Homo sapiens: one gene and its partner. The protein of the gene in region 2 interacts with the protein of the main gene of each other region in a pairwise test. Each region holds a gene or a part of one and is shown on either strand. Other genes may lie near its edges.

Region 1 (7,044 bases), about 81 Mb from region 2:
GAGAAAATTAAGCGGAAGTGGATCATCCTTATCATCTTGACGCTGAGTAGGCTGAGGAGGAAAAGGAGGTAGAGGAAGGGTTGGTTTTGCAGTCTCGGGGTGGCAGAGGCAGAAGAAAATCTGAATGTAAGTGGACCCTCACAGTTCAAACCCGTGTTATTAAAGGATCAGCTGTATAAGTATATTGATAGTGGTTAACAATAGGGGAAAAGTGTTTATGTATATTAATGTGCACGGGGGTGTATCACCTTACACATTTTAAAAATTCTGAAATTGTCTAGGTTGTACTAATTATTATGGCACTTGATATTTCCATTTAACCATATCTGAGAGTTTTTTTTCTGTGTCAACAAATGTAGATCTACCTTATGCTTTTTTATTTTTTTATTTTTTTTGAGACGGAGTCTCGCTCTGTCGCCCAGGCTGGAGTGCAGTGGCGGGATCTCGGCTCACTGCAAGCTCCGCCTCCCGGGTTCACGCCATTCTCCTGCCTCAGCCTCCCGAGGAGCTGGGACTACAGGCGCCCGCTACCACACCCGGCTAATTTTTTTTTGTATTTTTAGTAGAGACGGGGTTTCACTGTGTTAGACAGGATGGTCTCGATCTCCTGACCTCGTGATCCGCCCGCCTCAGCCTCCCAAAGTGCTGGGATTACAGGCGTGAGCCACCGCGCCCGGCCTTACCTCACGCTTTTTAATGGCTGCGTGGCATTCCAGCCTATGGATGTACCATAATGTAATTAGCCCTTCCCTTATTTATGGACATTTAGGTCACTTCCATTTGCATTGGATGTTTCAATAAGCACTGCCATTGAACATCCTGGTAGATGCGTGCATGTATCTTAGTAGCCATATGTGAGTTAGTTTCATATGTCAAATTCGTGGAATCCCTGGATAGGTAGGGCAAAGTGTATGTGTTTTTTTTTTTTGTTTTTGTTTTTTTTTTTTGGGGACGGAGTCTCGTTCTGTTGCCCAGGCTGGAGTACAGTGACGCGATCTCGGCTCACTGCAAGCTCCGCCTCCCAGGTTACGCCATTCTCCTGCCTCAGTTTCCCGAGTAGCTGGGACTACAGGTGCCCGCCACCACGCCTGGCTAATTTTTTTTTTTTTTGTATTTTTAGTAGAGAAGGGGTTTCACCTTGTTAGCCAGCATGGTCTCGATCTCCTGACCTCGTGATCCGCCCACCTAGGCTTCCCAAAGTGCTGGGATTAAGTTGTGAGCCACCGCGCCCAGCTGTGTATGCATGTTTTAAATTTTGTTGAAGCTGGGTGCAATGGTTCACGCTTGTAGTCCCAGCTACTTGGGAGGCTTAGGCAGGAGGATCACTTGAGCCCAGGAACTGAAGGCTGCAGTGCACTCTCATCGGGCCCGTGAATAGCCATTGCACTCCAGCCTGAGCAACATAGTGAGACCTCATCTCTATAAACAGTTAAAAATAAATAAATAAATAGATTTTGGTTGCTCCCGCCAAATTGCCCATCAAAAAAATTGTTCTGATTTCCTCTTCCATCAAAAGTGTTTGTGCTTGCCAGTTCCCTATACTCTTGCCAAGATAGAATATTATCATCTTTTTTTCCCCAAACCTAATGGGCAAAAACACTAGTGTGATTTTTCCCAATTAGAAGAGAGATTATTCTTTTTATATGTTGGTTGGCCATTTGTATTTCTTTTGTAAATGGTCTTTGCCAGTTTCCTAAAAATTGGCTTATTTTCTTCACATTCATTTGAGAAGTTCTATGTGTGAATACAGATATTAATCTCTTGTCTGTTATGTAATGTCGTGCATGTTTTCCCATGCTGTTATTTTTTCTGCAGTGTTCAAAAATAAGATCCCAAAGTGACTGGGTAGGTGAAATTGTTGCATAGAGGGGTGGGTGGGAGTTATGATGAAGCTGAGAGCTATCGCCCCACCAAAAGAGGGCTCCACCTCTCAACCATGGCTGGTTACTTCTACGGGGAAGGGAGGAAATGTTGCCAGACATCCAAATATCCCTTTATTTTTTCTTTTTTAAAGAAATGGGGTCTTGCTTTGTCACCCAGGCTGGAGTACAGTGGTGTGATCATAACTTACTGCAGCCTTCAACTCTTGGGCTCAAGCAATCCTCCTGCTTCAGCCTCCCCAGTAGCTGGGACTACAGGCATGCAACACCATGCTTGGTTAATTTTTTAAAATTAAAATTTTTTCTTTTGTAGAAATGGGGGCTATGTTACCCAGGCTGGTCTTGAACTCCTGGCCTCAGGTAATCCTCCCACTGTGGCCTCCCAAAGTGCTAAGATTACATGCCACCATGCCTGACCCTCCATTATATCTTCTAATTGATTATTGATGCTGTATTGGAAATTGTACCCTTCTTTAGTTCCCTCTGCTTTGACTCAGGTATGACATATCTCCTAGGAGTTCCTTCCCGAACTCTGGCTTGGGCTGAGTGTTCCGTGTCTGCTCCTCTAGCATCTCATGCACATTCCCCGACTTGAATTGAAATTCTCTGTTGTTGTCTCTCTGCCTTCCGATCAGGAACTAGGACTTACTCAATGCTTATGTATAGCCCTACTCCTAACAAGATGTCCAATAATAATAGGTGCTTAAAATACGTGTTTTCTTTAAAAAAAACTATGGAATATATTTTTACATTATTGTAATAAAAGTTAATGTATAATTTTATATTTCGCTTTATTTGTAACACTATAGTGAACATTTTTACCTTGGTAACAGTCATTATATTTATTTAGAGTAGCTGAGAAATAATGAGAGACATCATTTAATTGAACACTTAACTCTGCAGTAGGTACTGTTCCCGCTGCTTTGCATGAATTATCTAACTTATTCTTCACAAGGGCTGTTAGGCAGGTTCCCATTCTAAAGAGACAGAAAGTGAGGCACAGAGAAGTAAATTGCTCAAGGATGTGTAATAAGTACAGCAACCAAAATGTAAATATCCATTGAGTAGTTATAACCACTTAAATTGTTTATAAGTTTTGGATTTTAGACTTGCAGGGACCATCTTCATGCACATTTCCCCCCTTCTTTAAAAAAAATTATTTCCTTCTAAAAAATAGAGCACAGATCTTTTGTGGTACAGTGCTACTTTTCAAAATTTCATCATGTGTGCCTCAGCTCCACGACAGCCTTTAAGCCCAGCATTCTTCTAGTCACTGTTGGATGTACAGAAACTGATGACGTAATTGCTGCCCTCAAGAAGTTTAAAATTGAGTTTAGGTGATGAGACAAGTAAAAATGAAACCTAGCACAGAGTTTTTCCTGGATGAGGCATCCAATACAGGTTATGCATGCACTGGAAGAAATTTGGAACCTTGAGAAAGAAAACCAGATTTTGGCCTCTGGCTATGCAGAATTTCACATCTACTTTGATTCACCTTTGTCGGAGACTGCTTTGGGATGTATCAGTATTTTACTTTGATAAAGGGGTCAAATGTAGAGCAGTTCACTTTTCCCAGGGACTGAATAGTGCAGTGATCCAGAATCTTAAATAGCAGGAACTCTGGGATTGAAAGAGTTTTTTTTTTTTTTTTTTTTTGAGACAGAGTCTCGCTCTGTCGCCCAGGCTGGAGTGCAGTGGCCCAATCTTGGCTCACTGCAAGCTCCGCGTCCCGTGTTAACGCTATTCTCCTGCCTCAGCCTCCCGAGTAGCTAGGACTACAGGTGCCCGCCACCATGCCTGGCTAATTTTTTTTTGTATTTTTAGTAGAGATGGGGTTTCACTGTGTTAGCCAGGATGGTCTCGATCTCCTGACCTCGTGATCTGCCTGCCTTGGCCTCCCAAAGTGCTGGGATTATAGACATGAGCCACCGCGCCCGGCCAATTGAGAGATTTTATAAAGCCTTCTGCACTCTGGAGAAGATAGTGGGTGCTATATGACCATCAGAGGGTAAAAAAGAAATGTTTTGCTCTGTAGGCCAAGTGTGCAACACTGCCTGATGGTCTGAACGTGGGTTTGATCTCACAAATTGTCAGGATGTAACTCTTCACACATAAAAGCTTGTGAGACCTCTAGGCACGGCGGCTCACACCTGTAATCCCAGCACTTTGGGAGGCTGAGGCAGGCGGATCACCTGAGGTCAGAGGTTCGAGACCAGCCTGGCCAACGTGGTGAAACCCTGTCTCTACTAATAATACAAAAATTAGCTGGGCATGGTGGTGGGCACCTGTAGTCCTAGCTACTTGAGAGGCCGAGGCAGGAAAATCGCTTGAAACCGGGATGGGGAGGTTGCGGTGAGCCAAGATCAGACCACTGCACTCCAGCCTGGGCAACAGAGTGAGACTTTGTCTCAAAAAAAAAAAAAAAAAAAGCTTGTGAGATCGAGGGTGCTTGCTTTCCCTTTAATCAGTGATAACTTGCAGGAACTGACCACTGTTGCAGCAGTTGGTTCATTAAGGTTCTCCATTTCCAGAGCTTTCTCTAGTCTTTTCCATTGCCCTGCACTTTAGCTCTGAAAATGGAGTTGGAGTGAGTCCTCCTGTTCCATGTGTGAATACAGCAAGGCTGAGAGAGAGACTTTAATAAACAAGTGTCTCCTGGCAGAGATGGAATTGCAGTTGTCAGCCTTAGCGTTTGCTGAGCTGTCCCTTCTCCTCTCAGCCAATGTTTACCATTTTTGGAGCATTTCTGTGGTTGATGTTGTAGTAGAGCCTGGGAATAGTGCAAGAAAGAAAACTGTACGTCTATTCACACTCCCCCCCAACTCCCCATTTAATTTTGGCCAACAGTTTAAATTGCTTTTTGCATCTTTGCTTTTGGAGTTTCTTAGAGCTGGGCATAGGTTGCAACAATGACTACCTCTATTTTCTAACCTTTCCCCTTCTCCCCTTCCTAGTCCCTAGGGGAAGTTAATGCGTAGGGACATGGCAGAAGGCAAGTAGATGAAGGGGAAAGAGGAGACAAAAGGACCTGGATGGCCCACAGACTTAAGCAGTCGTGTTCTGAGTGGTTGAGAAAGGACTTTTGAAAGGATCTTGGCATTTTGTTCTAATTTTTACTCTGATGGTAAGCAAACTTCTTTCTCTACATAGGGGGTCATAATGATGGTTTTCATTTCTTGAGCTCTTACTCTGGGTCAGGTATTGTAGTCACAACTTGAGGTGTCACTTCATATTAATGCTCACAACATCTCTGTGAGGTAGATGTTATTAATCCCATTTCCTTAAAGTGGAAACTGAGGCTCAGTGAGTTTAATTACCTTCCACATAATCACAGGGCTAGACTCGAAGCCACCCAGACCTCTGTGTCATCTTGCCTTCCTATGGTTGTATGTAGCTACTGTTAATCCTTGAGATCTGCGTGCTGGTGTTAAGCATGTTTCATGTTACTTAGCTTTTAGGGGTTTAAAGAGCTTTTTAAGCCACGCACGGTGGCCTAGCTACTTGGGAGGCTGAGTCAGGAGGATTGCTTGAGGCTGGGAGTTCAAGGCTGCAGTGAGCCATGATCAGGCCACTGCATTCCAGCCTGGGCAATGAAACGAGACCCTGTCTCTTAAAAAGCTCTCCTTTTAAAAAAAATTTTTCTTATAAGTGACCTTGAAATTCAATTGTGGTTTTATCCAATTTTCTCACTTAAAACAGAAATTCTAATGATAATATTTTTATTTATTGCAAGGAACAAGTATATAGCTATGATAGATGACTTGTTACTTGGTCTTGAAATTCTTCTTTTTACCTCGTGAACATAGTGTGTTAAATTAAGAAAACACTGTAGAGATGATAATTTTGAAAAGTAGTTGATAGCTTGAATTTATACCTTTACCATTCAGGAGGTGAAGAGTGGAAGAATTATTTTCAGAAAGTTGGAAATGAAGCAGTAAGTGATGAGAATTTGTGGATGAGAGAGCACAAAACATCACAGTCAGTGACTGTTGCAGTTGACAAATGAGAAACCAACGCTCCCAAGGTTAAGAAAAACTTAGACTTAGGACACCCAGAGAAGCACTCCCTAGAATGCCAATGGAGAAAGACTTATCTCTGCAAGTGCTGTCCTTTTCAGCTCTTACTGCATGCCAGATATTGTGCCCTTCTTATCCCTACTTAACAGATGAGAAAACTGAGGAACAGATCAACAGATTCAGTAATTTGTCTAAGGTCAGACAGCAATTGATGTGTGATGTCTGAGACTTCCCTGTGTAAGCCTGGACTCATAACCTTTAGCAGTATGCCTCTTTATTAAATGGTCTGTTTTTAGGTGGCAATTTCATCTTAAAACAAATTCAGCATTAAAAAGTGTTTCTCTTCAAGTGAATTTGAGCGTGTTGGGGTCTGGAGAGATGGAATCATTTACTTTAACTGCCTATTCATTGGTCTCAAAAAGAAGCCCCTTACATGTTTGCTTAGGACAAATGATTATGCTGGATAAATACTAAAAACTGTTTTGATCTTACAAAATTTACTATCTGTGTACCTTTGGGGAGCAAAAACAAATTGCGGCTGGGAAAATTTAGTGCTTGTTTACAAGCTTTATTTCCTTTGGTTCCCCAAATTTGCACACACAGAGAGGGCATCATGGTTGGATTTTAAGGACCATTGGCAGCAAGAAAGGTAAGCAGCAGGAATCAGGGACCCCCCAGTACCTGCCACCCTGACGTCTGTTGGCACAAAAAAGTGGGCTGGCTGGCTGGCTGGCTGGCTTTAAGGGACAAGACGAGGCTCTTGATGAAGAGTACTCTATTCACGCTCTGATTGGAAAAACAAACTAAAACACATTTAGATATAAACATGATAGGAACCTTTAAAAAATCTTAACTGTTTAGTAGGTGCCTATTACTAACCTAGTTTCCATAGTGTAATGCATCAGTTTTATTGAACACTTTTTAGGGGATCAAGCATGGGCTTCTTGTTTACTGCTTCTTCTTAATCTACTCCCTTATATAAGTTTTTTGTGTGTGCATAGCCTCTACCTCCATTCTTTCTTAGTATATTATTATTTTTGAAGACATCATTGTGTTGGGGTTGGATGTGGTCTTGAAATTCACTTGGTCTAGCACCTTTATTTCAAACACTAGAAAACAGAAATTTGAATGATAGTATTTTATCTCTG
Region 2 (7,384 bases):
CCTTGCTGTGCGACCTTGGCTAAGTTAATTCCCCTCTCTGGGCTTTTTGACTGTCTGCATAATTTCCGGAGAGCTGACCACTCTTTTTCTTTTTTTTAAGAGACAAGGTCTCACTCTGTCACCCAGGCTGGAGTGCAGTGGCACAATCATAGCTCACTGCCACCTCCAATTCCTAGGCTCAAGCAATCCTCCCCCCTCAGCCTCCCAAAGCGCTGGGCTTTCAGGTGTGTGCCACTGCACCCGCCCGCTTGACCATTTTTATATGTTAACAATGAGAAGGCAGAGGAATAAAGGGCTTTCTGTATTTTTCCTAATTCTCCATGAAGAATCTAAGAGACAGTATGGCCCAGGCTGAGAGTCAGACAGACCCAGGTTCGCAGCCTGACTTGGGCACACACCAGCCATGTAACCCTGGGCAAGTTGCTCAACTTGACTGAGTGAGGGTGACCAACCTCCCCAGCTTGCCCAGGGCTGAGGGTCCTCCCAGGATGCAGACTTTCAGACTAAAAGTCAGTGCATCAGAGTCCCAGGCAAACCAGGATGAGTTGGTTAATCCTAATCGAACCTCAGTTTCCTCATCTATAAACTTTATTTTTTCGAGACAGAGTTTCACTCTTGTCGCCCAGGCTGGAGTGCAATGGTACAATCTTGGCTCACTGCAGACTCTGCCTCCCGGGTTCAGGTGATTCTCCTGCCTCAGCCTCCTGAGTAGCTGGGATTACAGGCATGCACCAACATGCCTGGCTAATTTTTGTATTTTTAGTAGAGACAAGGTTTCACCATGTTGGCCAGGCTGGTCTCAAACTTCTGACCTCAGGTGATTTGCTGGCCTCAGACTCTCAAAGTGCTAGGATTACAGGCGTGAGCCACCATGCCCGACCTCATCTATAAACTTTTATGAGAGCTGACAAAGCTCCTTGCCTTATTGTCTCCTCACTGGAATATCAGCTCCTGGACACCCAGGTGGTGAGAGGCAGAGCCCAGGCCAGCCTGACTCATAAGCCTAGGTGCTTAAATGCCATGCTTGCCAGTAAATCACATGGTTTGAAAAATCTGAGAATCAAGCCGGTAAATAGGAACAGCTGAAGCTTCAGAGTCCTGCATTTCAAACATAAAATATAATATAAAATAAGATAAAATAAAATAAAATAAAATGCCTGTAGGAATTTTTAGAGTGTTGGTAGGAATAGAATGGAAAATCAAAAAGGCCGGGCACAGTGGCTCACGTCTTTAATTCCAGCACTTTGGGAGGTCGAGGCTGGCAGATCACTTGAGGTCGGGAGTTCAAGACCAGCCTGGCCAATATGGTGAAACCCTGTCTCTACAAAAATACAAAAAAATTAGCTTGGCATGGTGGTGCACGCCTGAAATTCCAGCTACTCGGGAGGCCGAGGCAGGAGAATCCCTTGAACCTGGGAGGTGGAGATTGCAGTGGGCAGAAATCATGCCATTGCACTCCAGCCCAGGTGACAAGAGTGAAACTCTGTCAAAAAAAAAAAAAAAAAAAAAATTTAAAAGGAAAAAAGTGTGAGTCCTAAGTCAATTATCTTTTTTTAAAAAAATTCAAGATATGAGTCAAAGTTGACACTGATTATAGCAACGTGTGTGTGTGTGTGTGTGTGTGTGTGTGTGTGTGTTTTAAAATACAAAATAAATGCATGAGGTCCTCATGACAAGCCAGAGACAGATTGTCAGATGTGGCAGATCCAGCCTTAGGTAAAATCATTCATGCGTGTAGGTAATGAGCTTTTGGACTTAAACGCACCCAGCTCAGTTATTCGGTTGGACATTTTCGTGTTGTTGCTGATGTTTTTATTAGTGTTGCCGTTCTCCTCTGTTTTACATCATTACTTCAACCCAGCAAGCTTGGAGTATGTATCCCAGAAGATGCAAACAGCTGGGATTATTATATTTGTGTGTGTGTGTGTGTGTGTGTGTGTGTGTGTGTGATTAGAATGTCTGTGTAAGTGTGGAGCAGGAAGGGAACCAATGTATTTTGGTCTCTGCCACTTGCCAGACACCTGTAGATGCAGTACCGACATAATCCTCTCAATCCTCTCAACTGCTCTAGGAAGTAGGGAAGGTTACCGCCCTCATTCTGGAGGCTGGGACTGAGGTTTAGGGAGGAGAAGTCACCCACCCAAGGTTACGCAGTCAGTATGGGACAGCATTCGGACCTAGACCCAGTTCTATCGGCGCTTTCTGCACTGCTCCAAAAAAATATTTAGGCAGTTGGCATGCAGTTGCCACTTGATGCTTTCTGCTTGTCTTTCAGTCTTGCATTTATCTGCCTAGGACCTCCCTTGTCCCCTAGAAGGCAATCTGAGACAGCTGATGCCTTTGATTGCTATGTGCCCATAGCAAAGAATATGAAAGACTTCTTTTTAAAAAAAAAAATCAGTAAGCCAGAGATGAGGCATTTGAATGAACATAATTAGTTCTCCCTGGTTGCACCACACGGCTACTTCTCATGAAGTTATTTGCAGAGTTTATCCTTGAAATGGAACAGAAGCTATAAAAGTTTGAGAACCAGCCTACCAACTCCCCCACCAAAAATAATAATAACTACCATTTGAGTACTTGCTATGTGCCTAGATCTGCTCTAAGCACTTTACATGCACCACCTCTTTTAACACTCAGACTCACGCTGTAAGAGGGGAGTTATGATCCCCATGTTCCAGGTGAAGAAACTGAGGCTTGGGGAGGGAAAAATCACTTACCTATGGTCTCTCTGCTGGATGTTTGAGAGGCTGGATCTCTCCTTTCCTGTCACCTGCCTTAGGCTGTAATGTTGAGCCCTGTCTTTGACATTGGGAGGACATGAAATCCTTTGCCTCTCCCCTCTCCCAACCCCTGTCCCCAGCTCAAAGGTGCATCTGCCACTCACCGGAAGTACCAAACTGCTGGAGAGACCAGACAACTGCAGTGCGGGGACACAGGATGCTATTTCCTGAGGGGAAGCTCCTGATTCTGGAGCGTCTTGTTTCCAGCCCTCTGTCCGCCAGCCCGGACTGGAGTGCAGGGTCAAAGTCTGGAGCTATGGACAGGGCACGGCTTGAGGGGTGGGGCTCGGCACTGCACTGCCCACAGAGACTGGACCCAGGCCCGGCCGGGAGACCTCGCTCCCAGTCCCTGAAAAGTTGCCTGACTTTTCTGGCTGATCTCAAGCCCCTGTGGACAGGCCTTGGGGGAAGGAGGGAGGGCAGGCATTCTTGGAGGGTTGATGAGCACAAGAAGGTCTGTCTCTCTGGCCAGCTGGAGAGGATCCCCTTTCTTCCTTCTTCCTGCTGCCACCCTGGGGGAGGGTCAGGACGTTCCATGGGGCACTGTAGGCCTGGCCTGCGGTGGGGGTGGTCAGCCTGGCAGCCCCTGAGGGGAAAGGAGAGGCACAGGACAGGGGCTCCCTGGGCCAGCCCGATGCCATTCCAGGACGCTGGGGAGATGAGGCCAAGGAGAGACTGGAGGTGACGCCTGTGTGGGCCATGAGGATGCGTGGCTCTTTGCTCCCGTATCCCAGAGACGCAAGCAGCAGGACTCCAGGCCCTTCCTCTGCCAGGGATAAACATGGAGCTGTGATTTTTAGAGCCCAGAGATCTGCAGGCACCTCACTGTACAGATGGGAAGACTGAGGCCTGAGAGAGAGGGACCAACCAGCCCTGAGGGAGGCATTCTTTGGGTCAGCTTTAGCAATCCAGCCTCTAACACCTGCCTTTAGTATCATCAAATAAAAAGACGAAGATGAAATAAGAAAATGCATGCAAAATACTCACTGCATAGTATTTTTTCCTTTTTTAAAAGAGGGTCGGCTGGGCACAGTGCCTCACACCTGTAATTCTGACACTTTGGGAGGCCATGGTGGGTGGATCACCTGAGGTCAGGAGTTCGAGACCAGCCTGGCCAACATGGCGAAACCCCGTCTCTACTAAAATTACAAAAAATCAGCCAGGAGTGGTGGGGTGTGCCTGTAATCCTGGCTACACAGGAGGCTGAGGCAGGAGAATTGCTTGAACCTGGTGGGTGGAGGTAGCAGTGAGCCAAGATGGCACCACTGCACACTCCAGCCTGGGCTACAGAGCGATACTCTGTCTAAAAAAAAAAAAGAAAACAAAAAAAAAGAAAAAGAAAAGATAACAGACAGGGTCAGGCCAGGCGCAGTGGCTCTTGCCTGTAATCGCAGCACTTTGGGAGGCCGAGGTGGATGGATCACTTGAGGTTAGGCGTTTGAGACCAGCCTGGCTAACATGTTGGTGAAACCCTATCTCTACTAAAAATACAAAAATTAGCCGGCCGTGGTGGCACATGTCCGTAATCTCAGCTACTCGGGAGGCTGAGGCAAGAGAATCACTTGAACTGGGAGGCGGAGCTTGCAGTGAACCAAGATCAAGCCACTGCACTCTAGCCTGGGTGACAGAGTGAGACCCAGTCTCAAAAAACAAAAAAAAAAAAAAAAAAAAGAGAGAGAGAGAGAGAGAGGATCTCACTCTGTCACCCAGGCCAGAGTGCAGTGGCGCCTTGAACTCCTGCGCTCAAGCAATCCTTCTGCTTCAGCCTAGCCAGGACTACAGATGCATGCCATAACACCCAGCCAAATTACTTACTTTTTGTAAAGACAGGGTCTTGCTATTTTGCCCAAGCTGGTCTCAAACTCCTGGCCTCAAGCAATCATCCCACCCCGACCTCCCAAAGGGTTGGGATTACAGGCATAAGCCACCACGCTATGACATATTTTTTTTTCTTCAATAATAAAAAATGGATAGGGTGAAACCCACTTTTTACTTTATATCTAACTAGTTTGAATTTTAATACAATAGTCATGTATCACTTATATAACATATGGCCCTTATAAAGTTCCCTGTGTGTTTAATTCATCATGGGAGCACTTGAACATTCATAAAAGTTAGTCCAATATCTTCATGCTCCCCACTGCCATCACAGCAATAATTTACGTTTTGTAAATTGCGGTGTACCAATTCTAAATACCTGGATTTTCTTTTTTTCTTTTTTATTTTTTTCTGAGACAGAGTCTCACTCTGTCGCCCAGGCTGGAGTGCAGTGGTGCCATCTCAACTCACTGCAACATCTGCCTCCCAGATTCAAGCAATTCTCCTGCCTCAGACTCCCGAGTGGCTGGGTTTACAGGCACATACCACCTCACCTGGCTCATTGTTTTTCTATTTTTAGTAGAGACAGGGTTTCACCATGTTGGCCAGGCTGGTCTTGAACTCCTGACCTCAGGTGATCTGCCCACCTTGGCCTCCCAAAGTGGTGGGATTATAGGCGTGAGCCACCGCACCCTGCCTTACCCAGATTTTCTCTTTGAATCTCGAAACAGCCCTGTAAGGCAGGTGCTGTTATTATCATCCCCACTTCAGAGTTGAAATTCAGAAACTTGCTCCAGCATCCACTGAAGTTAAAGATGGCTATCCTAATATCTATCATGCCCACGCCTATATATATACCCAAGATAAATGAAAACACACATCAATCAAAAGGCTTCTGTAAGAATGTTCATAGCCCCTGTTAACTAAAAAAAAAAAAAAAAAAAAAATCACAAATGTGTAAATTCAGAGAGGAGAAGAAATCTTATTTCTTATAAGGGGTTATAGCCCACAAGGTGACCAGTCCATGGCCTGGGAAGTATGCCTCCTACCAAGAACAGAGACGGGCACTTTGAAGGAGGAGGGGTTGGGTTAGGAGCTTTGTGCTGAAGGGGTTGGCTGAATGATATATCCAGCAGGTTACAGGAGAAGCTATGAATATTTATGAAGGTGGCCCCAACACATGTGTATGAACAAATGTGCATGTAACATACAACCCATGTTCACTTTGGGGTGGAGACTTAACATTTAAATGTATTACAATTAGGCCAGCCATGGTGGCTCATGCCTATAATACTAGCACTTTTGGAGTCCAAGGTGGGTGGATCGCTTGAGCCCAGGAGTTTGAGACCAGCTTGGGCAACATGGCGAAACCCCTGTCTCTACAAAAAATACAAAAAGTAGCCGGGCGCAGTTGCGTGCACCTGTAGTCCCAGCTACTTGGGAGGCTGAGGTGGGAGGATTGCTTGAGCCCAGGAGGCAGAGGTTGCAGTGAGTTGTGATCGTGCCACTGCACTCCAGCCTGGGCAACAGAGTAAGACCCTATCTCAATCAATCAATTGATCAATCAATCAATCAATGTATTACAATTAGAACCTACACATCAAAATGTCTTTTCAGGAAATGCAGGCACATGAGGTTGCGGTTTCGTAACCCCACCAGAAGCAGTCCATAGTCAGTGATCTTTTTATTAGGAGAAAGTTACCAAACTCAGTCTCTTGTTCAATCAAAGCTGTAGTTGTTGTTATGACTGGAGGAACAGGGTGTCAGTTGGGTGTCTGTGTGCTAGATGAGTTGTAACTGTTTTAATATTGCTTCTTCTGAGGCCAGTGCTTGTTTCGCTGCTAGAGAAAAAGAAAAATCTTGTAACATAATTAGAACATAGTTTATTCCTTAAGAGTAGGGGCACCTGACTTAACCCTTGCCTGACATGGCCTTAGGCTGTGTTTATAATTTGGTATCTTATTGCCACAAAAAGTCTGTTCTGTCAGTCTTATAATCTCTCTCTCTTTTTTTTTTTTTTTTGAGACAGAGTCTCACTCTATTACCCATGCTGGAGTGCAGTGGAAAGATCATGACTCACTGCAGCCTCTGCTTCCTGGGCTCAAGCGATCCTCTCACCTCAGCCTCCCCAGTAGCTGGGACCACAGACACGCACCACCGTGCCTGGCTAATTATTTTATTTTATTTTATTTTATTTTGTAGAGACAGAGTTTCACCATGTTGCCCAGGCTGGTCTCGAACTTCTGGCCTCAAGTGATCTGCCTTCCTCAGTCTCCCAGGGGACTGGGATTACAGGTGTGAGTCACCATACTCAGCCCTCTATTTTAGCATTGATGCTGATCTTTTCTTGTATCTAAACCACAAAAGGAAGGAAGGGAGTGTAATGTGGTGTGCCTGACCTCCTGTCTCATCATGGCTGGAAACAAAGTTTTTAAAGTTTTTCTGGGGTTCCCTTTGCCAAGAAGGGTGTTCATTTAGTGGACCCTTAGGATTTTATTTTGAATTTACACCCCAAACTGGAAACAACCAAATATCTATGAGACAGAGGATGGATAAACAAATTGTGGTGTTTTCAGGAAACAAAACTCCCCCCTCCAAAAAAAAATTCACACAATGGAATATTATACAGCAATGAAAAGGGAAAATACTGTTATATATAGCAACCTGAATGAATCTCAGTCATTAGGTTAAGAAGAAGCAGCCAGACACTTAAGAGCTCATATTGCATACTTCCACTTTTATGAAATTCAAGAACATACAAAATTAATTGACAATAACAGGCT

Evidence for each region. The genes of interacting proteins can lie anywhere in the genome.
Region 1: the proteins of DAO (region 2) and KLHL42 interact in binary tests that used the Homo sapiens proteins (3 or more experiments, as listed by UniProt).

Annotation. Positions count from the first base shown.
Region 1 is NC_000012.12:27,783,205-27,790,248, forward strand, and holds part of KLHL42 (kelch-like protein 42), read left to right. Parts: intron 1-4,834; exon of another isoform or gene 4,835-5,004; intron 5,005-7,044. UniProt on the Homo sapiens protein: Substrate-specific adapter of a BCR (BTB-CUL3-RBX1) E3 ubiquitin-protein ligase complex required for mitotic progression and cytokinesis. The BCR(KLHL42) E3 ubiquitin ligase complex mediates the ubiquitination and subsequent degradation of KATNA1.
Region 2 is NC_000012.12:108,875,728-108,883,111, reverse strand, and holds the start of DAO (D-amino-acid oxidase), read right to left. Parts: upstream 3,021-7,384; 5' UTR 2,888-3,020; intron 2,803-2,887; exon of another isoform or gene 2,721-2,802; intron 1-2,720. UniProt on the Homo sapiens protein: Catalyzes the oxidative deamination of D-amino acids with broad substrate specificity. Required to catabolize D-amino acids synthesized endogenously, of gastrointestinal bacterial origin or obtained from the diet, and to use these as nutrients.